Homo sapiens: one gene and its partners. The protein of the gene in region 4 purifies or fractionates together with the protein of the main gene of each other region. This does not show direct contact. Each region holds a gene or a part of one and is shown on either strand. Other genes may lie near its edges.

Region 1 (7,456 bases), on a different chromosome or scaffold from region 4:
CAATTAGGGATTTATATTTAGGGGATAAAAACTATAGAAAAGAAGGAAATGATTTCCATAAAAGTCAGGGTAGTTTCTGGCTAGGACCTCTGGGGGAGGGAGAGAGTGTGGAGTCAGATTCTTGACCTGCAAGACAGTTACACTTATGTTTTCGTTAAAATAATCCATCAAATTATCCATTTGTTTTAGACACTTTTTTACATAATTCACAATTCAATAAATCTAATGTTGATTTCTGGGAATTCAGAACCATGACAACAATTCTGGCCAACTCTCTCTGAATGTCACTATTTGCCTGTCAGCTTCATAAGGTCAGAGACCGACCTTACTTGCCTTCTTCCTCTGTATTCAGGCACAGCACCTTTAGCATGGTAAAAGTCCTCGGTAAATGTATAATATATAAATCCACAGAATCCTGACATGAATTTTGTTTTAACCCATCCATTTCCTGAAATTACCGGTTTGAAGGGTGCCCACATTAACACTTTCCTTTGTCTTCACCCAGGTGAAGTGAAGCTTTCATAAATAATAAAGCCATCTTAAATGTTAGCTCTGTAAGTTTATACCCAGGCCTTGGTTGCTTTAGCAACTCTCCCTGTCTTCCACTCCCTTTGACGTTTCTTTATAAGCAAAGACAAGACAATAGGCTAGTAGTCCTAGATTTTTTTTTTAAATAGGAAAGTTTTATTCAGCACCTAAGAGTAAAACCTAGGATCGTAATGATTCTACTACTTTGAAGTTGTTTAAAAGGGGTAATTTGCCCCTTGCCCTGGGAAGTAACACCGTCTATCAGGATTATTAAAACTTTACCAACAGTTGTACTTAAACACATTACTTGTTCTTGACAGAAGCCAAATCTTTATAAACAGGACAAGTCAACTTTAAAATAATTAATTTCGGTTAAAAAACCACTTTGTGCAAACGGACATTTATAAAAATGCTTAGAAAAGTCTAAAAAGATATACACAAACCGATCAAGATGCACTCGGCAGTTACTTTTGAGGAAGAGGTTCAAAAGAAAGCTTTAACCTTATTAGTAAAGTTTAAATCTCACAGAGAATGGTTAATGTATTTCTTGTGATTTTGGGAAAAGCATTTTTAATCCATTTTGCCTTAAAATCCCAATTGCAAAGGAACCCATCAAACATAGCCCTCCCTAAAGCCCACTTTTTAAAAATGTTAAAGTATTAAAGGATTTCCTGGACTTACATACTTGGCTAGTCTTTTATGATATGAATATACATTTATGCCATTCTATTAATTATTATTACAGAATTCATACCTGCAGTCAACCGATATGAAAGCTTTCAGATGAGAACTCAGGACACACACGTTCAACAGTGACATTAAAACGACTTGGAATGAAGGAAACTGTCTCCAGTTTTATGGTGGAAAGCCAAAAATACCAAGCAACTACCTCTCCTCCCCCAAGCGTCAGAAGATGAGTCAGAGCTGGAGGCAGGAATAGGGCCCATGTGTCAAGCCTCCTGTGCAGGGCTCCTTCCTACCTCCTCGTGGCAACCCTCGTCCCTCCCTCAGGTCAGGGTCTCTGCCCCGGCCTGTCCCTGATGTGAAGTGTCCCTGATGTGAATTCTCAGGCGTCTCTGGCGAAGAAGAGGCGTTCACTGTGGGGGTGCCTCCTTCCCTGCATTTCTCAAGGGAACCAAGACTGGGGGCCTTTATGAGTCCACAACAACTAACAATAACCAAATCGCAGCTCAAGGGAGTGGAGCTTCCAGACACACGCACAACTCTGCAAAGAATACAGCACCTTTGTTCCCCTGGTTTTAGAGAGCAGGAAGGAAATGAGCGGAGAGAAACTGTGACTTGTCCAGTGTTACTTAACTTTGTGGCAGAGCTGAGTCTCAGGCATGGAGCTGCCGGCTGGCCTCGGCCTCTCTGACTCTTAAGTGATCTGTAGAATGTCAGGGAGGACGGTCCAACATTCCATCATACTTCTGAGTGGCCTTAGGGACTAGGAATTCCAGGAGACTCTGGGTTAAATCTCTTGGTCCCTATTCTTTTAAGGTTACTAAGGATACCCGGAGTTTGCTCTTCGCCTCCGTTTTTACATCTGTAAAACGGGATGGTAACGCTCTCCACCCCCCTCTCTTATAAAACGATAATGAACAGCTAACGAGTTAACACACACTAAATGTCCGGAGGTCCTGCTGGATAGAAAGTACAAGGTGGTTTTAAAAAAAAAAAATCTCTGCATGGTAAAACTGCATTTGTAAGTCGCTCCTCCTTCCCTAGCCTCTGGGATGCCCAGTTACCATAACACTGGCTGGTACCACTGGCAACATCCACCTAAATAAAATACAGTTATACAATCCACTTAAGGCGGCCACAGCACGCACCCCCTCTTTACAAACAACAACTCAACTTCGCTCCGGAGCAAGGGTACTTAGGAGAAATAAAAAGACAGATGTTAGCACCGCGCACACCCATCTACCACCGCAGAGAAAGACTCAAGTTGGACACTTGGCATCGCTGAAAGTCAAGTTGCTTCTATCCATGCACCAGAAACCTCGGGGAGATGCAAAAAGCGGCGGCGCGCTCCAGAGCGGGTGGATGCCAGCGAGAGTAGGCGGCCTCAGCGGGGTCGGAAGGCGACGGAGGAGGCGCGGCCGAGGCTGCTGGAGCCCCGGGGCACAGGGACAGGGTCGCGGGGGCGGCGCGGCGCGGCGGGGGAGCGGCAGGGGGCGCACGCTCAGGGCCGGCGAGGGTGCGCTGCGGAAGGTCTCGGGCCTCTCCTCCGCGGGCCGCCCCGAAGAGTCAAGGACCGCCAGGGAGCAGGTGGGGGCGCCGGCACAAAGTTTCCAGAGGCGGGGTCGCGCGGGCCTCTGGGTCCCCCTGCGCCCAGGGACCCGAAGCGCGAAGTCCCGCCCTCCCGCCCCACCCCAACACCTTCCCCACAACCCCCACCCCCGGGCCTGCGGGTCCCCTACCGGCGCGGCGCGGCGCGGAGCGGGTTGCGGTTAGGGCTCCGTCCTCCTGCGCGGCCACCGGCTTCTGCGGGCTGGGCGCCGCGCGCGCCGCCTCCTCCTCCCTCCGCCCGCGCCCGGGGCGGGCCGCGCGCACGCTCCCTGCGCCTGGCCGCCCTCTCCCGAGGTGGGGGGACGCGACGCGGGGCGGGGGGACGCGCGGGGCGGCAGGCGGCGCGCGTGCGCGCTGGGCTTCTGCGCCGTGCGGTGTGGTCCGGGCGCGCCCTAGCTCCCGAGGCAGCAGCCTCCCCTAGAGCGCTCCTCCGTGCAGGTCCCCTGGTCTCTTACCCTGCCTCACACACCGGCGACCCCTCGCTTCCCCAGTCAGCGTCTGCGTATGAGCCGGGCTCGAGGCGGGCTGCGGGGGCGCTCTGCTGGGGTGCTTTCGGGATTGGAGAGGATTAAAGGCGAGAAAGCAAATCCGATACAGGTGTGAAGCCGCCGCGGGTGGCTCGGGACGGCCTCGACCCCACCCCACCGCCTCCCTAGCCCGGAGAGCCCGGGGGTTGGGACCCAAGAGCGAAGGGAAAATCAGTAGCGCGGCAGTTCCTGGCTGACGCTTGCTGGAACAGGTACGGGCAGCCGTGGCGCCCGAGACCCGGAGGTGAACATGCAACCTCCGTGCGCATCTCCACCTGCTCTCGCCACGCCAAGGTGCCGTCCGAGTCTCGGAGCCCACACCCACCTCCCGAGTCCCCGAGGCAGGGCAGGGGTTCTCCGGAGCGCAGGCGGGACACGGGCATTTGAGGGCTCATTTGCTGTGTGACTCTGAGGGTCTTTTAAAATTCAGGTCTGCCCATCTGTAACATAAGTCGGTGCGAAACGGACGTTTTCCAGCACAGCCCCGCCTCCCCTCCGCCTCTGGCAGGTGAAGGGAGACACGTGGGAGGCAAAGCGACTTCCTCAAGGCTCTGCCGTGAGTCAAGGCACCTAAGAGTCCTGACTCCATGCCCAGTCCTTGACTCACCAGCCCCTGCTCCTCGCCGTTGCAAATGGTTGGCCTCAGAATTGCTGAGCAGTCAAAACGAGTAGGCATGGGTTTGCGGGGAGGGGTGGAGGGGAGAAGTAAAACCCGCGTTTGGGGTTTACATCTCCCGATGTCCTCAACCAAAAGCTTTGAAGCTTTTTCATGTTCTTCCCGATCTCCACTGCCCAACCGGCTTCAGAGTCATCCGGTGCGTGCTGGACTATCTAAAAGTTAGTGATAATTTTAATCATAATCCTGGGAAACGAAAAAGGCCCAGACTAGAGAGATTTATTTTCGTCTTCGTAAAAAGAGAATCAAAGCTTTAAAATTAGGCAAAATTAATCTAAGAGAAAACAAAGCAGCATACTTTGCTAGATTCAGGAAACCACTGAGTTCAAATCGTGCCTGGGAAAAGCATCTTCCTAAAACTAAATTGTGACGTCAGTTCACTTAGTGACTTACTTGTTTACATGCCAATACGAAAAGAGCAAATCTCTAACAGAAAGGATTGTGTGTTTTCATTTCTGCTCAGCACCCCCTAGTCCTTGAAGCTTCAGTCAATTCAATGACTCAGCAACACAAATAGATGCATCCCTCTTCACATTCCAGCTTGTTACACTGTAGGCAGGTTTCCAAAACAAGCTCTAGTGACAAGGAGCTAGGCATTTTCATGGATTATGGGAACTAAACCTACCATGAAGAGTCAGTGAAGAGGGAGGTGGGCTAAAATAGAGTTTGTGTTGTGTGCGATGTGCGTGTCAAGATTTAGAGATTTAGAGATTAAGTAGAAAGAAGTGCTGGAGTCAGACCATTTAATGACTGTACAGACATGCCCTGGGGTAGGGAGGCGGTTTATGCCTTTACAGAATGTGGAAGTGCGGGCTTATACATGCCTGTACCAAAAATGCAATTTGAAGTTATTCTCTTCTGGACCAGCACTGTCCAGTAGAACTTTGTGTGATGATGGACATGTTCTGTATCTCCACTCTCCAGTACAGTAGCCACTAGCCTCATGTTGCTACTGAACACGAAATATGGCTAGTGTAACTAAGGAAGTGAATTTAAAATTTTATTTTAGTAAATTTAGATAGCCACATGTGGCTAGTGGCTACCTTACTGGACAGCACATTTCTGGACTATAAGTATGTGAGTTTTTTTATAGGTGTCACTTTTTCTTCTTTTTTTTTTAAGATAGGCTTCAGGATGGAGTGCAGTGGTGCAATCATGGCTCACTGAAGCCTCCACTTCCCGGGCTCAGGTGGTCCTCCCACTTCAGCTTCCCAAGTAGCTGGGACTACAGGCACGCCACCACGCCTGGCTAATTAGTTTTTATTATTTTGGGGGGGACGGAGTTTCGCTCTTGTTGCCTGGGCTGGAGTGCAATGGCACGATCTCGGCCCAGCGCAACCTCCGCCTCCCGGGTTCAAGTGATTCTCCTGCCTCAGCCTCCCGAGTAGCTGGGATTACAGGCACGCACCACCACGCCTGGCTAATTTTGTGTTTTTAGTAGAGACAGGGTTTCTCTACGTTGGTCAGGCTGGTCTTGAACTCCCGACCTCAGGTGATGCCCCCTGAGGTTATAGACGTGAGCCACCGCACCTGGCCTTGTTATTACTAAAGAGACCTAGTCTCTTTAAATAATATGTTGCCCAGCCTGGTCTCGAACTCCTAAGCTCAAACAATCCTCCCACCTCAGCCTCCCATAGTGCTGGGATTAGAGGCATGAGCCACTGCGCCTGGCAGTGTCAACTGTTGTGGATGTAGAAACATTTTAGAGGCTGTCTGCTATAAAATTACAATTTGTCTATGCCCAGGGAGGGTTTGGGTTCTCCTGACTCCCAGCTAAATAACCAGTGCTTTCGAGCAGGGCAGCATCTACGAAGAGTGAGAGCTGATATGATTAATACAGTAAGTAGAGGGTGGAAATTTGTACTCTGCTTAGCTTCTGATGTCTGCCTTTCCAAAAATATTCTCCTTAACTGCTTGGGCAATGACTGCTCCTTAGATTAATCAGACTTTTATGCGTCCCTCAGAATGAATAGTTGCATCTTCCATTTGTATCACTGCCTCTGGTTAACAAATTAGCAACAGCTTTGATCTGTCAGAATTGGGGAACAGCGGTCAACAAGGCTCCCAGTCTACAGAAGTTTGATTTCAGGGTGCCATCGGGTCTTGTGGCTCACAGAGATTCGGAAGGCCTGCTTGCCTGTGCCTCTAATTCCAAATTATATGCCATTGATGGCTATAAAAATGCAACTCCCCTGAGATAAGTAAATCTTTAAGCTACTGTCCTTTGGCAGATTTGAGAGGGACACTGGACACCAGGTTTCTGGGAGAAAAGATATCTTAAAAACTAGCAAGATAGAAGTCTCAGAAGTCTCAGAACACATTTCTTCTACTACAGAAGTTTGCCTAAGGCTTGTGCTATTTCATAAGATGTAAAGTAGCACCTTATCTAGATATCATAAGGATTAGCTAGATGTTATTAAATGTAAAATACTTTGAACTTCTACTTTCCGAGTTTTCACAGTTCTCATAAAATGTACTTTCCAAGTAATAAAGAATTGTCACATTACAGATAAGAAAAAGAAAAAAAAGCAAAAAGAGAAAAAGCATTGCTTACCACCATTTTATTACTTAACAAAACAACAATTAGCATCTGGATTTCTTTCTGGTCTTGATTGTATGCAAGATTTTTTACTATTGTTAACACAATTACAATCAAAGAATGCATACAGTTCTGTAACCTGACATCAAGCTTTTTGAGCCAGGCATTATAAAAGGGAACATTACAACATGTCTAGGATAATTAGGTAATTTCAAATCTGTCTCTGAAATGTTTTGCCCTTAATTCAACCCTTGGGCAGTAGCAATGATGCAGTGATGAGAATTTCAAGATAAACAACATCCTTGTAAAATGCACATCTGTCTGTTTTAACATTTGTTCTTGCAGATCTTCATGTCCCTCTCTGTGAGACTTTTGCATGATGTGAATTGGGTGGTACAGGAAAATCATGTACTTGCTCATACCTGACCGCAGTGAAACTAAATGTCAAAGGCTCAGTGGGAAAAGAAAAGGAAGGGAGGCACCAGGTGTGTTATATACCTTAACACATTTAATCTTTTGTTGTTTTTGTTTTGTTTTTTTGAGACAGAGTCTCACTCTGTAGCCCAAGTTGGAGTGCTGTGGTGCGAGTAGCTAGGACCACAGGCGTGCGCCACCAAGCCCAGCTAATTTTTTGTATTTTAGTAGAGACAGGGTTTCACCATGTTGCCCAGGGTGGTCTCAAACTCCTGAGCTCAGGCCGGGCGCGGTGGCTTACGCCTGTAATCCCAGCACTTTGGGAGGCCGAGGCGGGCGGATCACGAGGTCAGGATATTGAGACCATCCTGGCTAACATGAAACCCCGTCTCTACTAAAAATACAAAAAAAAAAAAAAAAAAAGCCGGGCGTGGTGGCGGGCGCCTGTAGTCCCAGCTATTCAGGAGGCTGAGGTAGGAG
Region 2 (8,022 bases), on a different chromosome or scaffold from region 4:
GAGCCACCACATCCGGCCGGTAGACTCTTAGGTACTTCAGGATTAATTTGTTATGATTTATTGAAAGACTGTAGCTCCTCAAACCTCTGTTTTCTATTGTCAGGATAAATCCTAGGAGACTTTAAAATGCACTAAATTTTTGAGTGATAAACAGTGTGGGGCCATGGGTCAGGGGTTCAAGTAATATCAGCTATAGGGAGAAGCTGATTGTTGTTTCTAAAATAAAATATAACCCATATGAAAATATTAATACAATTAAAAATTAGACATTGAAATTCCTGTCTTCTTAATCCTAATCTAATAAAAGCAGTAATTATGTCTGTAAATAGCAGGGTCTATATACTCAGTAAACAAACAATGCCCATCCCATTCTATTATTAGATAAAATGAGAGGCTTATCTCTAGTTTCTTAGTCTTTCCAGACAAACAGAAAGGAATTCCTACAGAGAGAGTGAAGTTAGTTGGTAATGCAACATTACCAGATAAGAAGATGAGTAAAGGCTGTTTTCCAGTTAGTGTCTTTTACAAAGGAGAATATAGGCCGGGCGCGGTGGCTCATGCCTGTAATCCCAGCAGTTTGGAAGGCCAAGGCGGGTGGATCACGAGTTCAGGAGATACGAGACCATCCTGGCTAACACGGTGAAACCCTGTCTCTCCTAAAAATACAAAAAAAAAAAAAAAAAAAAAAAAATTAGCCAGGCACGGTGGTGGGCGCCTGTAGTCCCAGCTATTCCGGGAGGCTGAGGCAGGAGAATGGCATGAACGCTGGAGGCGGAGCTTGCAGTAAGCCGAAATTGCACCACTACACTCCAGCCTGGGGGACAGAGTGAGATTCCGCCTCAAAACAAACAAACAAACAGGAGAATATAGACATGTTAGATTGATGGGGGAAAATATTAGAATTATAGAAAAGAAAATAAAAAAATAAAAAAGAAATTATTTCATCTTTTAAGATATATTAGAATATATAAATTTTACTCATGGTCACAACATACCTCTTTTTGCCCAAGTGATTGTGTATGTGTGTCTGTGTGTGTGTGCATGCATAGGGCTGTATCTAGTTTAAAGCACTGTAACGTCTGGATTCTCTTTTTTTTTTTGAGATGGAGTCTCGCTGTCTCCCAGGCTGGAGTGAAGTGGCGCGATCTCGGCTCACTGCAAGCTCCGCCTCCCGGGTTCACGCCATTCTCCTGCCTCAGCCTCCGGAGTAGCTGGGACTACAGGCGCCCTCTGCCACGCCCGGCTAATTTTTATGTTTTCGGATTTTTAGTGGAGACGGGGTTTCACCATGTTAGCCAGGATGGTCTCGATCTGGATTCTCTTTGAACGGTATAAAAGTCTGTGAGATGGCCGTGGGGAAACTCAGAGAAATTAAAGGTATAAAATGTAAGAAAGTGTCAAGGCTGAGATGACCATCCCAGCTAGTTCCTACTGCAGGTTTCTTTTATGACACCAATTTTGGCTGGTAAAGAAAAGATAATAACACCTAATTGGCTGCCTCACAACACTGCATAAACAAATCAAAAGAGCTAATGAATGGCAGGTTGTTTTGAAAGCTGTGGAAGGTGATCTAATCATAAAAGACTATAGTTATTTATTAACTATTATCGTCATCAAGGCTCCCTCTGTGTAGAAAAACAGAAGACTTTAGGAATGATATGGTAACTTTATATTTTGGAAATAACCTTTGTTTGTAGTAACATTACTGATCTACAACAATCTTTATAATTTTCTCATTTCCTCCCCCTGTATCAGTATCCTTCAGATTCTGCCAACCTCATAAATGCGTAAGGTTGTAAAATTCATAGTTTTTATTATCTAAGCCCACTCATTTCTAATGAGAGGAAAAAAGTTTCTACATGTTTGATGAATAATTGAAAGAGTTAAAAACAAGGATGATATTTTGAGTTAGAAGAATACCTTGATAACCTAACTCTGACCCAAACCTGAGTTCTCCAAACCTTCAATCCCATTCATTTAAATGTAATATTCATGGTGATTTTCAGGAATGAGGAGTAATTAACAGAGCATGTGATGAATCACCTCTGGCTTTACAACATTCCTAAAATGAAATGGAGAAGAAGCCCTAATGAAATGAGCCAGCTGATGAGTACTTCCAATTTTGGGGGTGCTCACTGAATCTTCTTTTTACTACTTTCTCCATTTGGAAAAGATATCAGTTTCAAACTTTTTATTCATCATTTCAGAAAAGGCTGGCATCTCTGAGGAGCTCTTTTCCAGTAAGAAGGAAACCAATGTCTTCAATGTTTCCTCATAGTAGAGATTCCTAAGACAGGCAATCATCTTTTGGTTCTTCTGTTCCACCCTAGCACCACTTCCACTCCTGGGAATATTCTCCATTTGGGCTAGGCTAGGGGTCACTAGAGCATAATACACAGTCATTGATTCCATTTTAAGGCATCAAACTCTTTTACCGTCAATAACAGAATATATGGTTGGGACACATTTCGTATGGTCTGACAGGGCAGATGAAAGATAAAAAATTAGTATTGATATGTGAATATTTAGAAGAGGCTTTTAGAGAAAGAGACAAGAAATCAATGCTGATTGAAACAGAGCAATGGTTTTCGTTAAGTTTTAACAGGTGATGTTTCGATTTGTTTAGGCATTATGGTTTAAAATACAATTAAAAGGGAAAAAGAGAACATATATCGTTATAGTTTAATTTCACCTCAAATTGTGTTGGGGTAGTTTTTCTATGCTGAGTAAATATAAATCTATTGGTGAAATCCACAGTCAACAGATGTTTACTTTTCTTGGTATCTTAGAAATTATCTAGTACAACCACGTTATTATAATTATGTAAAAATGCAAGACCAGCTATCATTAACTATCAAGCTTATCACATAAACTTGATAATTGTTCTAAGCACCTCTCTCTCTCACACACACACAAACACACACGCATTATATATATGATTTATCTCTAAACCTCTTAGCACTAGTACAATGTACGTGTTATTATTTTTATTTTACATATTAGGAAACTGAGGCTTAGAGAAAATAAGTGACTTGTCCAAGGCAACATGGCTAACAATTCAAGATTTGGACCCATTTCTAGCTTGCTTCAAAGCTGGGTTCATTTCTATCCCTACATAGTTGAAAAGACTACATAGAATAGAAACAGATTTCTGAAACCCTGTCTCATTCTCTTTCCATTAAGCTATGATGGACTTTGATTTTCTAACCTGTAACAATAATGGAATTTGAACTTGCTTTCCGTGGTCACTAATTTTACTATTCCATTGGAAAGGAGCCAAGCTACAACAATAGTGCAGACCTTGAAACCAATGATTTTATATATATATATATATGTGTGTGTATATATATGTATGTGTGTGTGTGTGTGTGTGTGTGTGTGTGTGTGTATATCTTTTTTTTTTTTGATGGAGTTTTGCTCTGTCGCTGAGGCTGGAGTGCAGTGGCGCCATCTCAACTCACACACCCTCCGCCTCCCGGGTTCAAGCAATTCCCCTGCCTCAGCCTCCAGAGTAGCTGGGACTACAGGTGCGTACCACCAAGCCCATCTAATTTTTGTATTTTAATAGAGATGGGGTTTCACCATCTTGGCCAGGATGGTCTCGATCTCCTGACCTCATGATCCGCCAGCCTTGGCCTCCCAAAGTGCTGGGATTACAGGCGTGATACACTGTGCCTGGCCCAGTGATTATATTTTTATAGGAAATAAATTATTTCATGAGAGAAAAAAGAAAGGACGTATTATCTCACTGTGATAAATCTCATAATATTGGCATACTCCCTAAGTTGGGCAACTTTGATCAGTTTTCTGGAACCATCATAAAAAGGCCTTTAATTGGATAAAGTCTCGAACTTTTCTTCTGTGGATGTGAATATCTTGAGAAGTACTGGAATGAAACAATTTGGCTCTGGTTTCAGTCATCTTCACATGTTTCTTCAGGTGCTTTCTTAAGCTATTAGGGCAAAATAAGCTGGTAGAAAAAAGGTGTTACTTGTAGGATGAAAGAAGCAACTAAAGAGAAGAAACTTTCTCTAGAAAAATGTTACATTTACACATTTATAATTGTTAACAACTTTTTTCTTCTTTTCTTTTTGGGAGACTAAATAATGGGATGATACAGGAAGAAATATGATTTAGAGAAAACTGATTGAGCCAAATTTTTCAAACGGTAATATGGGTAATCATAGGCTATGGAAAGTTAAACTGAGTCTCCAATGTTTATGATTATGATGTTTGGCTAGGATATAAAATAAGGCTTCAGAATATAAAATATCCTGCAGATTGAGAAGTTTTAAAAGTAGTTACATACAAGTTTTATTTTTCCAACGTTCCTGCCTTTTCTAATGTCTAAGGATGAAGCAGTGTACAGAGAGGAAAGAATGTTATATGTGTGGTCTGCTTGCAAGTGCTGGATGCCTCCTCTGCCTGCTCCAACTAAACTGTCTGCTTATGAGAAAGTCATTGCTCCTCTGAGTTCCTGCCTCCCTATATATTCAACATTAGAATTTTGCCAGGTTATCTTTTAGGGTCGTTCAACTCTAACATATATATGAGTCTGTGACACTGAACTCAGACACTTCAGAACAGGAACCCTGGATTTCTCTGGATGTGGAAATCTTTAAATCTATACCTGACTGGTAGGACAACCAATCTGTCTTCCTTTCCTCTCCTCTCCCACTTATGAAGGGAGTCCAGTCAGAAACATGTTTGTCTACGAGGTAGTATATCTGGTATTTCTGAGGAATTCGGTTATTATATAGGATTATAGAATATTCAACTTTGAGTAGGGTCTGTGGACTCCATCAATTGCGTTCTGGGGGAGGTACCATGAAAGAACATTCCTACTTTAGAAATAGATATTCTCTGTTCAAACCTGACACCCTGACAGGATCCTAAAGGATGGAAGCTAAAGTGGTGTGGTATATAAGTCCCATGACCTTGAACAACTGGTTTTATGTGGGTGTCACCAGTGCTTTATAAAAGTAAACTGCATCGCCCCGAGTTCAGTCATACTGCACCAGCTGAGCAATGCATGGAGTGGACCTGTAGGCGACTTGCATCGTCTTCAACATGAAGATAGCCACAGTGTCAGTGCTTCTGCCCTTGGCTCTTTGCCTCATACAAGGTGAGCAATTTGTGTGTAATCTAAGCCTCTTGCCACACATCTCAAAGCCCTGGGGAAGGGACTTTTCTCCCCCTACTCCTGCCAAAAAATGTTTACGTATGCATGTATAATCCTGAAATGTCTTGCCAGACACAGAGTTCTGAAGATTTATATATGTGGCTTTATAATTATGTTGTTATCTTTAGAAATGGCAAGTAGTTTGAGATAATCTGAATTTTCTAACCATGAGAAATTCTTCCATTAATTCTTTATTAATTCAGAAAACTGAATAGATTCTTCTTCATCTTCCTCTTGCTAAATGTATCAATTCATAATGCATATTCTTATATATGTAATAGACATTTAAAACTTAATTGTAAATAATATATGTATTTTAATGTTATAGGTATAAATGAAATATTTTTTAAAATTCAATCATCTGTTCTTATTTTAAAGCAGTGGTATCTTCTAGCTTATTTTAGTCTTGTGTTTTCAAATGCTAAATGGGTTGAAAGCATTTCTCCCAAAGAGTGAGGGACTTTTGTGGGAGCTGGAAGGTAGATTTTTATATTTGCTATTTAACCCTAAGAGAACACAAATTGCCTAGACTTACGTTGCTCTGAAACATTAAAATTTTTAAAAAGAGAAACTCATAGATAGTCTGAAATCATATACAAATAATGCCCATTTTCCTAAAATAGGTGTGTAGGTACAAAAGAGCCTATGTTAATGAGAGAGTATAATAGCCTGTGACCTTAATCTTACCTTCTGTCAGATCTCTAACTTTTGCAGCTGTAATAAGGAGGTAGAGCTGCCAGAATTCAGAAAATTAAATTTTATGTATATATCCTATAAATGTAATGCTATATTATAGTTTCAACTATAATATAGTTTCAAAATTATAATTGGTATAGTATTTTGTGTGTATGTTATATTGTAATTTTAAAAGGGAGGCTGGCATTTATTACTCCGAAAGGACCTTTTGAAGATAAGCTATTTTGATGGGGTTAGAATTCACATGAGTATTATTTTCCAAAGTAATTGTAACTTTCTGAGTGATTAGACCTTTGTGAGTATATATACTAATCTCCTGGTCCAGTGCCCTTCTTTTATTTGCCATGATAAATCTTAATGTGTTCAAAAACCATTTGCGGTTTTACAACATATTGTCATTAAAGCAATCAAGATGCTGCATTAAATGGATTATTTGTTTTGTTTATTAAATATTTTACATTTCCTTAACTTTGGTTTCTATATTTTCATCCCAGATGCTGCCAGTAAGAATGAAGATCAGGTTAGTCCTGCTTTTTCTGTTCATTGAATTCATTCCAAGATTCCCAAAGAAAAGTGGTTTGTGGCCAACACCTTCATGTTAATAATACAAACATATTATACTGGTAGGTACTAATAGCTTTTGTTAAAAACACAGAAACAGATTTTTATGAATCAGGACATGAGCCTCTCTCTCACACACACACACACACACACACACACTCAACATATTAATGATGATGGATGTCTGCAAGAGGCAATTTATCATGTTAAAGGAGCATTTTAAAATTTCATAAACAAAAAATAAATCAACTGGAAAACTACTATTGTTCCATTTAACATCTCAACAAGCCATGATACACCACATAGGAAGCTGAAATAAATTTTCTAGTAATCATTATGCAAAAGAGGGTGGTCTGTATCTTGTATATAGTCGGTGTATATAGTTCATGTAATGAATATTTATTGAGCATCTCTTAGATGTCAGACCCTGTTTGAGATGCTGGGGTTATTTTTAAGTAAACAAAATAGATGAAATTCCTGCCCTGAAAATTACGTTTTAGTGTAGGAAAACAGACAAATTAATAAGTAGCTTAGCAAAACATATGGTACGTTAAATAATGATAAATGCTAGGAGAAAAATAAATCAGGAGGCATAATAGGATCCCTGAGAATGGAGGTGGTATCCATTCTCATAAGGATAATCAGGGAAGTTCTCTCTGGACAGACAGTATTAGAATAGGAATCTGAAGGTCATAAGGGAATGAACCACGAAGGTATTTGCAGTTTACAGCAGGCCAGACAGAAGCACCTGTGAGCGCAGAGGCCCTGACGCAAGAAGGTGCTTTACCAACTCTTAAACCTCTTTTGTTTGATAAATTAAAAAATCATTTTCTACTAGAAGTTAAATTTTTTAATCTATTTGAAAGATAGGATGACCAATTACTCACACACACACATTTTATATATTTATATACACACACACTGCTATGCATGCTATTAATTCAGCACTTAAAGCACAATCTTAAATGTTTTGCTGAATATGTGGCAAAATTTGTTTTATCTCTGGCCACGAACATTAAAGGAATAAAAATGTGAAACAGCTATTCTTTACGTTGAAACTCTGAGAACCATGGTTAAAATACTCTCTTGCCGTATTTTGTTGCAATGATTTTTTTTAAAGAAACTTCTTACATGAGTGTTCTAGAGAATTTTATCATGTTCTCTACTATTTCATCTAAGTTTACTGATAGGGAGAGGTCCAGAAAGTTCAGTAGAGTAGAAAATAAGCTAGACATTTGGGAATCAGAGAGCATGCTCACTTGGAAGTTTTATACTGGGAAAAAAGAAGGATATTATATAAATATCATTGTGTATAAAACCATCATTTTCTTTTTCAGAGTCCGTGATGATGGTTGGTGATTTATGGCAGATACTGTGAATTTTACACTGCTATTTTTCATAGCATTAACCTCTATTTCACTGAAAAATATTTTAAAAACAAATTTAGTGACTTCTTATATTTGGTATTAAAGGCAAGAACACAAAGAAGTAATTATTTATTTGGAAGCCTTTCTAATCAGAGTTTTTGGATACTGTGTCAGAAATGAAAACTATTGATGTAGTCTTTTTTACGATGCTGTGAT
Region 3 (7,023 bases), on a different chromosome or scaffold from region 4:
CACTACTCAATTGCTGTAGAGTTATATTCTGGGAAAATGTGTCTAATATCATTGTGAGAATCACTCATGATCTTTGCATAGCTTTGAAACCTCACAGATTATTTCAAAAAAGAAATCCTCACCAAAAGTCAGCTGTTATTTTTTATGCCTTGAAATGATTACATTTTAATTAGTGCTCATCCCTGAAAACAGCAACAATACAGTTTGACAAATTTACTTCTCTTTAATTTTAGAACCCAGCTTTTGATCCCCATGAAACCTAAATATTGCAAGGGCAACCTAAAATGTATGAAGTATTCTTCCTCTGAGGATCTATATGTTTAAAAAAACTCTATGGGGAAAGGAGGGCCCTTTTTGGGAAATTTTTGTTTGGTGATCTTTCCACTTCTGTGACCAGTCTTAGTTTAGGCACTCACCCAGAGCCCAGAGGCTAATTCTCTGTTCTAGTCTCTTCTACTTGCTTCCTACCGCAGGGTCACCTGCGCTCATCAGCCCTCATCAACTCTTCTGTGCCATTGTACTGAAGCCCAGAATGCCTGGTGTGTCATGAACATGCCTCCATGCTGGCTCCCAGACTCCCTTTTGCCTCTCTGCTTCCTAGGTGTGCTATGCTCTTCCATATCTTGCTCCCTTTTGTTTGTGTGTGTGGTTTTTTTTTGTGTGTGTGTGTTTGATTACCTTTCAAATTTCCTTAGACATCATCCTCCTTTAAAAGAAATCCTCAGCAGGGTGCAGTGGCTCATGCCTGTAATCCCAGCACTTTGGGAGCCCAAGGCAGGTGGACCACGAGGTCAGGAGTTCAAGACCATCCTGGCTATCATGGTGAAACCCCGTCTCTACTAAAAGTACAAAAATTAGCCAGTCGTGGTGGTGGGCGCCTGTAGTCCCAGCTACTCGGGAGGCTGAGGCAGGAGAATCATTTGAACCTGGGAGGCAGAAGTTGCAGTGAGCCGAGGTTGCGCCACTGCACTCCAGCCTGGGCAATAGAGCAAGATTCCATCTCAAAAAAAAGAAAAAGAAAAAAAGAAAAAAAAAATCCTCAGCTTTTCAGGCTCACCTCAAAATCCACTTTTCCAAAAGATTGTCCTAACTTTTCCACATGGACTTAATTGCTTCTGCCTCTCTACTCTTAAAGCATTTTAAGGAAATTTCCATGATGGGATTTGTTTTGTGCTTTTAGGTAGTATATGTAGTGATTTGCATGTGTTTCCCATTTTTAGGACTGTCACTCACCCTAGGCTTTCTTAGTTATCATTGTGGATTAAGCGCATATATTTGTCAGTCCCATTGTTTATTTCTAAGGCACTCAAAAATTGCTAGAGATACCAAAAAGAAATGGCTCCATGAACCTAACCATCCCAGCGAGCCTCGTAACAGCCCTATTTTGAAGAACTATTGAAAAGAAGGATTTAATTGAGTACTTACAAATCAGTAGCAGGATGCCCAGAACCATCATGCCAATCCCTGCTGGTCCAAGACCAACATTTGAAACTCCAGCTTGGTCTTCAGTGACAGGCCCATACGTGTCACCAGTTATGTCCTCTGTGTAGATGCCCGCGGCACCAGAGTCCAGGCACATGTGGTTGTCATCGCAATCACAGGCATATAACTGCACCATTTGTGCCAATTCACATGCTCTGTTATAGCTGTCCTTCACCAGGATTGGGATTTCATAAAATCCTGGAGATAAAACCTGCTTAGCCGTAAGGATTGCCGAGGTAGCTGAAATGGAAGAGAGGAAACAGAAAATAAATGGAAATTCCTTGGTGGGCTAGGGGGGTGGTTAACTCTCCCTAATACCAAATATTGACTTAAAACACTAGATTTTTCATGCTTTCTTAGTCATAAAGCACCTTGTACTTTTTTTTAACATTTATTTAATTTATTATTATTATTATTATTCTTGTTATTTTTGAGACAGAGTCTCATTCCTATTGCCCAGGCTGGAGTGCAGTGGCACGAACATGACTCACTGCAGCCTTGGATTCCTAGGTTTAAGTGATTCTCCCACCTCAGTCTCCTGAGAAGCTGGGACTACAGGTGTGTGGCACCATGCCTGGCTAATATATATACATTTAGTAGAGACAGGGTTTTGCCATATTGCCCAGGGTGGTCTTGAACTCCTGGGCTCCAGCAATCCACCTGCCTTGGCCTCTTAAAGTGCTTGGATTACAAGCATGAGCCATTCTGCCTGGCCTTTTTTACTTTTCTTTCTTTCTTTTTTTTTTTAACATTTATAACTAATTTTTAAATAAGTATTGCTTACTGCTGGATTGCTACTTCTATAATGCAGGCAAGGACCTTGCTGCATCTTTCCAGAGCAACAGTAATTGGCATATAATATACATTCAATAAATATTTGCCCAATGAATAAATAATATTGAGCTGAAAGAAAATATTAGAAGTCTTCTATTTAGGATTACAGTTTACACAATACCCTCCTTAAGACTGTTTATATGTATCTTACTCAAAATTGTTGCCCTTTCATTTAAAATTGTTCACATTCTCCTAATTCTTTGTGCTATCATTGCCTATGAATTTTCATAAAACATATTGTCTAAAATATTCATTGGAATTTATTTATTAATACAAGGAGTGTTGAGATGATTAAATTTACAGCTAAACCATGAATAGTAACTGATTGATCCATAGCACACAATATTTTTTATTATGATGGTTTATTATCCTCAGTTAGCTAGATGGCAAGCCAGCTATGTCCACCAAAATCTAACCTGTGCACAAGGTAAAAATGAGATAAGGCAATGCCACAGCACATTAAGTGAAATTCATTCTGTTCTAAAACACCAGCAAGCATTGAAACAGGTCTCTAGGAATATCATCTCCAGTGTGGTTATATTTTTTATTGGCAAACCTGTAATAGCTATAATATTATACCTCCATGCAGAACATTTTTTCTTACATGTGTAATCATAATATCTAGGATCCGAATGAGGAAAAAAGTGGTTAGCAATTATTATTGTTTATGAATGGGCTATTGAGCTTTATAGGAGATGGTGAATTCAGAGTTGACTTGATATTAATGGAATTGCTTTAACATGATTAACTTTAAAAAATATTAAAGTGGTTTTGTTGAAAAGAGCTAAAGGTTTGATGGTAAAAACAAATTGCCTAATTTCTTACTTTATTGGTGGTATTTTCCCCACCTTATTTTAGGGTTTCTCCATTCTGTAAATAGAGGGGCTTGGTGACCTTAAAGAGGTGGGAAGTATTTCCTCTCACCCTGGGCTCTGTAGTCTGATGGCCACCGACTAGCCCATGAAATTTTCCCTGTAGCCCCAAATGAATATGAGATTGGGGAGCTATCTTAGCCCATATGAGATCCTCTCATAGCATTTTCTTTTTTATTATGCACTTAACGTTTTAGGAAAAAGAACGCAAGGTAGATAAAATGTTATGTTATCTGAAATTTATTCTTAATTTTTATCGATGTCAGCCATTCAATTGTATGTAGTTATAGTCAAGATACATACATATACAACTTCGTGATCTGTTTTTCACTTTACTTTCTTTGGTTTATGCATTCTTTTGTATCTACATACTTTGCATAATTCTAATTTTAATGGCTGTATATTAACACATCTTAATAATATGTACTCTGTTTAATCATTCCTCTAATACTGAGCAATTTGGATTTAAATTTTTACCCTTAAAAATAAGTCTGAACTCATAGTTACTGTAAAAAACAATTTAATTGATTTTATGTGCTCCTAAGTGAGTAGTAAATGTTTAAATGTATCTATGGGATATATGAGTTTCAGAGACATTTATGTGATTTGTCTGAATTTATTCAGAATAGGGAATTGTGACATTCTTAATTTATGAGTTTGTTAAGGGTTCTGTTTATTTTAAACTGAATAAATATTGGTTCAACGTTTTACCTACTCAAAATGATGGGTAAACTGGTATTTATCCACTACTATTTGTAAATTAAATATTAATGAAACATTTTGACTCATTTCATTTCAGTTCAAAATTTTATCAAATATCCTCTGTGTACATGAAATATTTTTTTCATTTAATGTTAATATGGCAAGAACTGTGGAAACAGAAGTAGAATGTTTTATTAAGTGACTTGCCACATTTTTTGGTAATTGTTTTGCTTTTGGACTTAAAGTCCAAAAAACAAGCTTACGTTTCACTTACCATTTGTTGATCTGACATCCCACATGTCAGCTATTCCTGGTGGCTCATCAACAACACAGAAAGTAAACGGAGACCCATAAGAATGTTCATTAACAGAGATAAGGACTGATGGAGAGTCAATGCAGATGGTTCTTCTTTCAGGAAAAATGTTTGGACAATAATCATTGATATCAGGAACCTCAATACATATGGTTCCTGTAGCTGTTTTTCCAGAGCCATCTGAAAGAGTAAGGGTCATTGGTGTTGAGGTAAATGGTGTTAGGGAGAAAACTCTTTCTCATATCCCCTGATGATGCCATGGAACTTGTAGGAAACATATACGTGACTTGGGAGGCTTGACAGGTTCCTGCCCGCTTCAGTGACCCAAAGTCACTCTTCCCTTTGTGTGCTACCTTCCAGCCACACTGCTTCTTTTGAGTTCTTTAAACAAGTTTCTTTTTTACTCTGGACTCTGGCACATTCTTTTCACCCTTCCTAAAATGTTTTCCACCCTCATTTCATTTTGCTAATTCTGACACATCCTAAGGCGCAAAATCAAATGTTCTTCCTCCGAGAAGGTTTACTGGTTTCTAATCTCACCCTGTTCCCATAAATTAGACCCCCAGGTCAGTTATGAACCTCCATTCAGGATGCTCACTGAGTCCTGTGTTTGTAGAAATAACCACAGCTGAAATAAATACTTGTTTGTGTTTTTCTTGTGTGCTCACTGTTTATTTTAATTGCATCTGTTACATGCTATTTCTTTCTGAAATGGCATTTCTGAAAACAAATATAAGTCTATTAGATTTTTCCCTAATCCACTTGAAACAAGTTTTTGGATAGTATAATTAATCAGAAAGGGCCAAAGACTAAAGATTAGGAGTCCAGGAGCTTTTTAGTCCACTTTTCTACTCTATGTTCTGTTACAGCGAATACGGAATTTTTTTTGCTTCTTTTTAACTTGAAAAGAATCTTAGCTTTCTCGCTTTTAAACTAGAACGTTGTCGTCTCTGGGGTACCTTACTAGGTCCTTTTCTGAGAAAGCAATAAATTCCTTTTACAGATGTTTTCTGTGTGCCTAAGTAGTAGTCATTGAGGTAACTGAATGAGAATAAACTGAGAGCCTACCTATAGTCTATATGATTTTGTATAATATGTTTATATACCCTATTCAGCATTGGACTTGTTTTTACTAGATGAAGGATGTCGATTTCACTTAGCTTCTCATTCGAGAGGCATCAGATTATTCCACAGATTGTTTTATTTGTCATTCTTTGATCTTTGGTAGCTCTTCTATTACCTTGTGATTGGCAACCAAAGCTCAAGCTATTGCTTATAGTGTTTGCTTCCCAGTAAAGTTTGCTCTGCATAGAGGTCTGTCTCTTCACCTGATGATGGTGTGTGCTGAAGCAAACTTATTCCAACCATTCAGATAGCTCTGTGCCAGTGCAGACACTCTGCTTAGGTGAATAAACAATCAGCTTTGTTTCTGGGTTTCTCTTGGTACATTTTGACAGCACTTTCTCTCTCTTTATTTGCTTGGAATGACTAATTATTTATTCTAGCATTTGAAGATTTTTCACATATGACCAATATGCAAACATAGGGTGCAATCAACATGGTTAGAATCCATTTTCAAATTAGAGCTTCCAGAATACTGATAATGAATAAGACAATGTTATTTATAAAACTGACCCAGGCGTTAAAATTTACCCGCCACAGGATGAAGCCCAGGATGTACAGATGATAGTTGGTTTGGTTTTATCATGGTTTCTTTTTGAATTTTATGCTGCTTCTTTATCTTTATTTTTGTTTTGATACTGGAAAGGTCAGCTATAAACTCAATGCAAACCTACAGTATCTGTCTTACATTAGGCATGTATCTTGGACGCCTGTCTTTCCCCTTCCTTCGTGGTTCCTGACCTTTGTCTCTTGTTTGGTTCTACAGCAGCTGGTTTCCTAGGCACTGCTTCATAGAATCATTAACTATTGATAAATAAACAAATCCTGTTGCTGCTCACCAAGAGGACTGCTTAACAGATTTACCCATGTGAGAGGTGGCTCGCTTACAAGTTAAGTCAGTGCATCTGTATTTATGACTTTTAATATGGATCTTATATTTGGAATAATCTGTGCTTTCTTGGTCCATAGCATCTTACTATGGAAATATGTCTAATCAAGCAACACTCACACAAGCTTCTCACTGTAGTTCAGTTTTAATGGATCTAAAATAATTGTATTCTTGGAGACATTGCTTTCCCACAAGGTGATCCCCAAATGAACTTTGTAGAGCACGTAGCCCTTACTTTAAGTAAACATTCCCAACATACCCTACAAGTGAGATTAGCCATACTCAAGAGACAAAGTCATAATCAGAAGATGAATTATATTTTAACTTTTATGCTGTAAGCCATATACAACTCAGTTTTGGAAGTAGATGAAATAAACTATGGCTTCAGTGTAAATTATGATTTTAATTGACTTCAATTCTTGATTTAAGGTGTTTAGGGCTTTCCATAAGTCTTGCATACACCATTAAAAATGTCTGAGTCACTCAAATATCAGCATTAGAATAACATAATATTTAATATAATAGTACTAGTTTTCTTAAAATACTGAAAATAAATTTTCTTACCATCTATAGCCAGGATCTCTGCTGTGTATATCCCATTGATAATATATTTTGACTTCTTATCAAATTCTCTAGAAAATTGTATCTCACCAGTTCTTGAATCAATTTTTAACCAGCTGCCTGCATCATGCCCTATGATATATCTGTTTTTAAATAAAAAAGTTCGTTATCATGCTTTTATGAAAGTTAGTACTTTTAAATCATGTAACAGCTACAATGTGGCAAACTTTAATATTGTGTTTTTATGT
Region 4 (7,250 bases):
CTCCTCCTGCCCCAAGAAAATGATCTCTTGAGACTTTTCAAGGTATCCTACAAACTACTACTGGCCACATTCTAGTTTCAACTTCCCGCCTTACTACTAGCAGCTTTCTGCTTCCTCCTCTTAAATCTGTTATTTCATTAACACCACACTTCTCTGCAATTATTCTTTATTCTTTCGGGGTATGTGAAAGCACTCACCTACTCCCCCAACATATCAACCCTTCAAGTACTTCAAAAAAGTTTTCATGAATCCTATTATATGAATATTATATATTAATGCCCTACTATTCTTCATATAAATACGCTAGGTCCTTCCATCTAACTAGTCCTTAAATTAATATCTCTAGACCCCTCACCATGCTCTCAACAGATATTTTATTAATAAATCTTCAATGAAATGGGTCATTAAAACTAAATATAACACTCTAAGGTCAATGCAGAACAGAGTGAACTGCATTCCACTCTAGGGATGCCATGCTTATCTTAATGCAAAATAAGAATACAGTTAGCTTTTTATCTGCCAGTTCTCACAATGGACTTCTCGTGAAGACAGTGATTAACAGAAATCTCCACACAACCAACTCTTCGCCTTCTGCAATGCCTTCTGCAATGCTTTCGGTATTCAGGAACTACTTATTAAATACCTACTATGTGCCAACTCTAAAGTATAATTACTTCACCAAGATGGTAAATATTCCATCTTGCTTGCTCTGGCAGCCTAAGAGTAATAAAGACCTTTCAATAAATCAATGTATTTGTTACCTTCTCCTTCCTACAAGAAGTGTAAACCAGCAATAATGTAAAAGGAACCAGTGCTTAGCTTCAGTGAGCTGGTACTATCTATTCCCAGCAGCACCTAGAAAAGTGCCTGACATATAGAATTTAAAGACTTTGTTTAAATTTTTTAATTATGGGAGAAGAAAGCTGTAATATAGATCAGTTTTTACATCCGACCCCTCACACTGTACCTTCTTTATGTAGCTAGAAGTGACTTCCATCAGACACACTCCTAATTAAGAAAAAAATTCCAGCTTTGAAGATAATTGATGGTATGTCCTTCTGACTGGGGTACGGGTTTGTTGCCCAATTTCAATGGATTTAAAATTTGAGGGCCGGGCACGGTGGCTCACACCTGTAATCCCAGCACTTTGGGAGGCCGAGGCGGGCAGATCACGAGGTCAGGAGTCCAAGACCAGACCGATCAACAGGGTGAAACCCTGTCTCTACTAAAAATACAAAAATGAGCCAGTTGTCGTGGCGCACGCCTGTAATCCCAGATACTCAGGAGACTGAGGCAGGAGAATCGCTTGAACCCGGGAGGCGGAGGTTGCAGTGAGCTGGGGGATCACGCCACTGCACTACAGCCTGGGCGACAGAGCCAGACTCCGTCTCAAAAAAAAAAAAAAATTGAGTCACGTATACTTTCTATCTGCCGTGTTTACCTGCAAATTCACTTTTTGTGTTTCCTATTGACTGTAAACATCTTGTGGCCAGGAACCAGTGCTTCTTTCCTAAAGCTGTCGTTTGCTCTTGCAGTCATCTCCCCAGAGTAAACACAAAAGTATCTCAAAAGTAAGTGTGCAACAAAACTTTCCCTTCAAGGGGAAATCCCAACCCAACATTACTTCACATACAGAATTCTGGTACTCATTTTCTCTTCCAAAGTAGAGACTGGTATTAACTAGTTCCTAGAACTGCCAGTAGGAGCCCTACGACAAGCTCTTCTCCCATCTTGTCCTTGCCCCGCCCCCTCTGAAGTCCAGAAATGACTCGGCTTCTAACTTGTATAATATAACCCTCTACCAGGTACACTTTTCTCAGCACTGGGAATAATCTGACACGCCCAAGGTCATATAAAAAGCCTGCCTCCTGAACCAGGTTCTAGGTTCGGCGGACAAACTTCTGGTTCTACTACCTCTAAGGGTAAGACCCTGCTCAATTTCAGAGGCTGTGGCTTAAGCACCTCCTGAGGGGAGCAGTTTCCTTCAAGAAATACTAAGCCAAGTCAACCTGTAATTATTCTAAAGAATGCCAAGAGGCCTCAAACCCTGCCTCAAAGGCAGTGCAGCAAGACGGTAAAGATTCTCACTACTAGCTATGTGATCTTAAGTCCTCCAAGGCTCACTTTCATCACATTCGAAATGAAAACAACCATATCTGAATTTGGAGGAATCCTTGTGATGATTAAATGAGACAGTGCATCCAAAATACTTACTGTAGTGTCCAGCAAAGCAAACTCTTAAAGTTAGCTAGAATCATCACTATAAACCAGGCTGGGCCTCCAGCCGGCGCTTGATTAAGCGCTGACTTAGCCAAGGAACTAGGCTCCGATTCTATGACCCCAATCAACTTATTCCCGTAGGCGCCACTCCACACCCTTCCGAGCTCCTTCGGGTATTGGGCGCCGGCCGCCCCAAACCTCCCAAAGCCCCTCTCCTCTCAATCCAAACGCTTGGAGGCAGGCTGCACCAAGGCATTAGCTGGCGCACTCCCCTCCCGGAGCCCCCCAGGCGCGCCTCCTGGCCACCGCAGCCAGGGGTTGCCTCTCTCCCCTCCCCCTCCGCGACCTCCCTTCCCCTCCCCCCATGCAAGGCCCCGCCCGCCCTCCCCCCCGGCCTCGTCCTCCCTCCCACCCCCTCCTCCCTCCCACCCCCTCCTCCCTCCAGCCCCTTCCCACAGTGCCTCCGACCCCAGCTGCCGCGCGGTTCGAACGAGGCCCTCCCAGCGCCTCCTAGTCTCCCGGCCTCCTCGGACAGAGCGCCCGCAACCCCCGTCTCCAGTGGCCATACCGGCTTGCGGAGGCCGCGGCCGCCGCCTCTCCGCAGGTCTCCGCTGAATGGGCGGACGCGAGGCCACTGGACTGGGGCGTCGCGGGGAGGCGGTGGTCACGGCCCCCTCGGTTGCCCTTCGCGACCGCCGCACCTCGCTCGCAGGCTCGCGCGGGCCCCGGCCAATCGCGCTGACCCAACAAGCCTAGCGAGAACTTGGGCTCTGTACGTGGCAGGTGGGGGAAGAACAGAGGCGGGAGCAAGAAAAAAAAAAATGTCCTTTCGCCCCTCCTTATTGCGCGTGGACATACCCAGGACGCATGCGCGACGGCGCGAGGCGCAGGGCTGGCTGGGTCCCGGCTGCCTAGGCCGAAGAGTCCCTGCTTTCTCACTGGATGACGGGATTTAGGAAGCGTGAGCTGCCCCGATGCACGCATGCGCGGGGCGTGACCACGCACTTCCGGTTTTCTCGAAAGCGGGTATTTCCGTTTCTCGCCAATGGGCGGGGCGTAGTGCGCTGTTCTAAACTTTTTGAGAGTTGGTTGCAGTAGACGTCTGTCCAACTTTAAGTGGTTTTTGTCGTTATTGTTGACCATTGTAGTAACAGCTGAAAAAGAAAAAACCTTTTCTTCTATAAATCCATTCATTCATTATTGGGAGCCTATGCTTTGCCAAGCCCGGTTCTAGGAATGGGGGTGAATCATTTTGTGAGCAAGGAGTTTCCAATTAAGCAGGGAAGACCTACAGCGTTTATGAGCAAGGAAAATCTGTAACTGTGTAAAGGACAAAAGCTGGGAAATTAAGGCTAAAGATTCCTGAGTGATTTTTAGAGGATAAGGCATTTGAGTGTGTCCTACGTACTCTTCCCTTCTCCCTTACCTGTTCAAATAGAAATACAGTATGAGTAAGTAGGAATTTATAGCCAAGGGGTGGAAGTCGGTCAGTGGATGGAAAATTACTAAGAGGAAATATCAGGGGCAAGGGAGATTCTGGCTAAACCAACACAACAGGATTCTAGACGAAGATAGGCCAGGATAGCAGACATCACCTGGGGGTGGTGGAGGATGAGGAACCCCATCAAGGGTGAGGGATTCTCACTACACTGCCTTAACAAGGTTCTTTGCTGAAACTGAGTTTTACAAGAAGATGCACAGATGGTCCTAGGAGAAGGCCCAGGAGCCCGAAGTTTGGCCAAACGGAGAATGTTTGTCACTTCTAAGGTGGAGACTAAGCTGATAAATAAAGCATTTAGACCCTACCTGGTCTCCAGTTGTTTACCAGTTATAAAAGAAAAACTTAAGCTGAATTAAATTTAAAGGAGTTTAATTGAGCAGTGAACGATTTCACGAATTGGGCAGCCCCCAGAATCACAGCAGATTAAGAGACTCCAGCAGAGCCACGTGGTGGAAGATTTATAGACAAAAAAAGGGAAATGAGGTACAGAAATTGGCAGTGAAGTACAGAAACAGCTGGATTGGTTACAGGTTGGCGTTGGCCTTATTTGAACACTTAGCAGTCTATGAGTGATTGAAGTGTGGCGGCTGGAATTGGCCAAGACTCGCTTATTGTAAGAGACGCATACTTCTAAGTTAGGTTTTCAATCTTGTCTGTTAAGCTAGGTTACAGTTCATCCACAAGGATTCAAGTATAGATGTATGGAGTCCTTCTCAGGCCATATTTAGTTTGCTTTAACACCAGATACTCCTAAAGGACCTGGAGTAAATTCTGGTGTTTCAGGGTGAGAAGCTACGTTCTTTTACAACCATAAGTAGTGTGATCTTTTTCAGTTATAAGTCTCTGAAACTTCTGTTTGAGAGTGAAATAATGTAAGTTTACACTGTTCACTTCTGATTTGTATTTTCCAACAGTTGTATTGACCTTTGAGCAATTGTTTGCAGGGATAAGGGAGTGGAGTACTGCAGAAGAAATGAAAAACAGTTCCTAATTGCTCTCCAAAGAATGTTATTCATTGCTTATTTTTTAAAACTGAATAATACAGATTTGGGGAGATGCACTGCTGTCAGATAATAGTATTATGATGTCATTAAGATGGTTTGGGATGGGGTAAAACCACAACCATATGGCAAAGGTAAAATATTCCCTGAAGGAAGTGAATTATACTACTGTTATAGTAGTATATTTAAACTAAAAAGAGGTCAGATCCTGAGGCAGGAGATAAGGAGGTGAACCTTGGCCTATTATAAGGTGAAAAGAGTATCTGCTGAGGATCCCCAGTGAGGGGGCACTCAAGAGTCCTGCTACTGAGGAGAAATAAGCTGGTCCCTGTTACACTGTGGTCATCTGTACGCTAGGAAGAGAGGCACCCATAAGCTGGCCTTGTGGAAAAGCTGGAGCTCATGGAGCTCATGGACTCCGAAAGCAACTTGAGGCTCTTTATGTTGTAATTTCCCTCATGCTTCATCCCGAAGCCATCAGTAAAGTCTTCTTTATGGTAAAGCCTATTCCCAGCTACTTCTGTGGAACTTGAGAGGTGGGGTTCTGGTGATTTCTCAAGTCGAAGCTGATGCACATCTATGTACTTAAGCTCCCAATAAATACAGGTGATATCTAGTGACAGAGCCATAACCTGAATTGAACCAGTTACCTCACTTACAAGAAGATGGGTCTCTTCTACTATGTCTGTAGATACATACTGGCCTTCTTTTCTGCATCTAGATGAATTTGGTTTTAAATGAACACTGAGCATAGTCTTGAACTAGAAAATACTACTCATTTCTTCCAAGGAACTGCTAAGAAAAAAAAGAAAAGAAAATACTGCTTAATGGTAGTATATTAAAGTTGAGGATATGTGAAGGAAGGAGAAGGAGTGCAAGGAAATATCTTTGACCCAGACTGTAGCAAGGAAAGATATGAGATTCTGCACTACACAGGTTATTTTCCATGTTTCATCTGAAGAAGGGTTAAGACTTACACTGTGATTTTAAGAGAAGGAGTCAACCAACCAACTTAGCTACCACCTGCTCTTTCTCCCTGAAAGTCTGTGTAGCTAAAACTCCTCACATGGAATGGGGGGAAAAAATCCTAAGAATGAAAACGGGATTCTCAGACTGGACAAGAAATGAGACAAAGACTATGAGCCCTGTTAGCAAGTTAGATAAAATCTATGTTTCATCATGTTCTTCTTTAGTACTTAGTATAAATCATTTTGAAAATTTGAGTCATCTTATATGTCCTCAGAAGAACAAAGGAAAGCGTGTACATTCCTCCTTGGATGAGAATTTCCAACGAGAAGTTATGTCCCTTGCCAAGAATCAGCTCTGTTGTGGCAGCAGCTAGCTAAAAAAAGAGAACTCCAAACAGAAGGGGAATCATGAGGACCAAACAGGAGCCAGCTAGTCAGCTCAGCCTCACCTTCACTGGCTAAATGTAAAGATTTGCTTGTGTGAACATAGGAAGCTGCCACCCTATGCAGAGATAATGAAGGAGAAAGGAACGATTTCTTACTTTGTACCTTTGAGTGAGTGATTCTTAGCACTAGCTAAGCAAAATACTTCAACCTGTCCTACCAGCTTCACATCCGTGAAATCCCTAAAATGCTTTTGCCTTACCATGATGCTCTATGTCCAATCTCTCTTTAGAGAAACTACTCTCAAAGGCAGTTCTTCCTAGATTTTGTATCACTAGAGGCTGATCTAGACATTCAATACATAGTTATTGAATAAAATAATGAAAACTAAGTTCCCCACCACTTTACAGGGCAAGCTCCCAGAAAAAACAAAAGGATCAGCTGTCAACGGGTAAGTTCCTAACTCCCTAGCCATGTAGGATTTGTCTCTTAGTAATTTGAAATCATTCACTTTTCTTCATTTACATCCCCTGGAGACAGTGCTAAGTTACCTCTCTGCTAAATTACCTGTCAGATTTCAAGTTGAAAGAGAAATGCAATTGTGAGCTGAATTGCATCCTTCCCCCAGAATTCATATATTGAACCACCTCAAAAGGTGACTGTATTTGGAGATGGATTCTTTAAAGAGGTGATTAAGTTAAAACGAGGTCATTGGGGTGAGCCCCTAATTCAGTATGACTGATGTCCTTATAAGAAGAGGAGATTAGGACACACAGAGAGAAACCAGAGATGGGTGCACACAGAGGCAAGGCCATGTGAAGATACATTAAGAAGGCAGCCTTCTGCAAGCCAAGGAGAGAGCCCTCAGAAGAAACCAAACTTACCAAATTTTTATTTCCAGCCTCCAGAACTATGAGAAAATAAATTTCTGATGTTTAAGCCACCCAGTCTGTGGTGTTTTGTTATGGTAGCCCTAGTAGACTCATACAAATGCCACAAGATGTGCAAGAAGATATAACTTTTCATTTGATCAAGAGTAGCTTTGTTAGGCTCATTTAAGAAACCTAGGCCCAATTAGCCGGGCATGGTGACATTCGCCTGTAATTCCAGATACTGGGGAGACTGAGACAGGAGAATTGCTTGAACCTGGGAGGTGGAGGTTGCAGTGAGCCAAGT

The links.
Region 1: the proteins of TFG (region 4) and DUSP14 purify together in Homo sapiens (affinity purification with mass spectrometry; 3 studies listed by BioGRID and IntAct, with this or other methods). This does not show direct contact.
Region 2: the proteins of TFG (region 4) and SPINK5 purify together in Homo sapiens (affinity purification with mass spectrometry; 3 studies listed by BioGRID and IntAct, with this or other methods). This does not show direct contact.
Region 3: the proteins of TFG (region 4) and DSG4 purify together in Homo sapiens (affinity purification with mass spectrometry; 3 studies listed by BioGRID and IntAct, with this or other methods). This does not show direct contact.

Annotation. Positions count from the first base shown.
Region 1 is NC_000017.11:37,485,454-37,492,909, reverse strand, and holds the start of DUSP14 (dual specificity protein phosphatase 14), read right to left. Parts: upstream 3,020-7,456; 5' UTR 2,952-3,019; intron 1,378-2,951; exon of another isoform or gene 1,283-1,377; intron 1-1,282. UniProt on the Homo sapiens protein: Involved in the inactivation of MAP kinases. Dephosphorylates ERK, JNK and p38 MAP-kinases. Plays a negative role in TCR signaling by dephosphorylating MAP3K7 adapter TAB1 leading to its inactivation.
Region 2 is NC_000005.10:148,058,975-148,066,996, forward strand, and holds the start of SPINK5 (serine protease inhibitor Kazal-type 5 isoform b preproprotein), read left to right. Parts: upstream 1-5,005; 5' UTR 5,006-5,070; coding exon 5,071-5,125; intron 5,126-6,372; coding exon 6,373-6,398; intron 6,399-6,432; exon of another isoform or gene 6,433-6,501; intron 6,502-8,022. UniProt on the Homo sapiens protein: Serine protease inhibitor, probably important for the anti-inflammatory and/or antimicrobial protection of mucous epithelia.
Region 3 is NC_000018.10:31,400,776-31,407,798, reverse strand, and holds part of DSG4 (desmoglein-4 isoform 2 preproprotein), read right to left. Parts: intron 6,919-7,023; coding exon 6,779-6,918; intron 4,384-6,778; coding exon 4,165-4,383; intron 1,723-4,164; coding exon 1,426-1,722; intron 1-1,425.
Region 4 is NC_000003.12:100,705,260-100,712,509, reverse strand, and holds the start of TFG (protein TFG), read right to left. Parts: upstream 3,017-7,250; 5' UTR 2,789-3,016; exon of another isoform or gene 2,689-2,788; intron 2,585-2,688; exon of another isoform or gene 1,442-2,584; intron 1-1,441. UniProt on the Homo sapiens protein: Plays a role in the normal dynamic function of the endoplasmic reticulum (ER) and its associated microtubules. Required for secretory cargo traffic from the endoplasmic reticulum to the Golgi apparatus.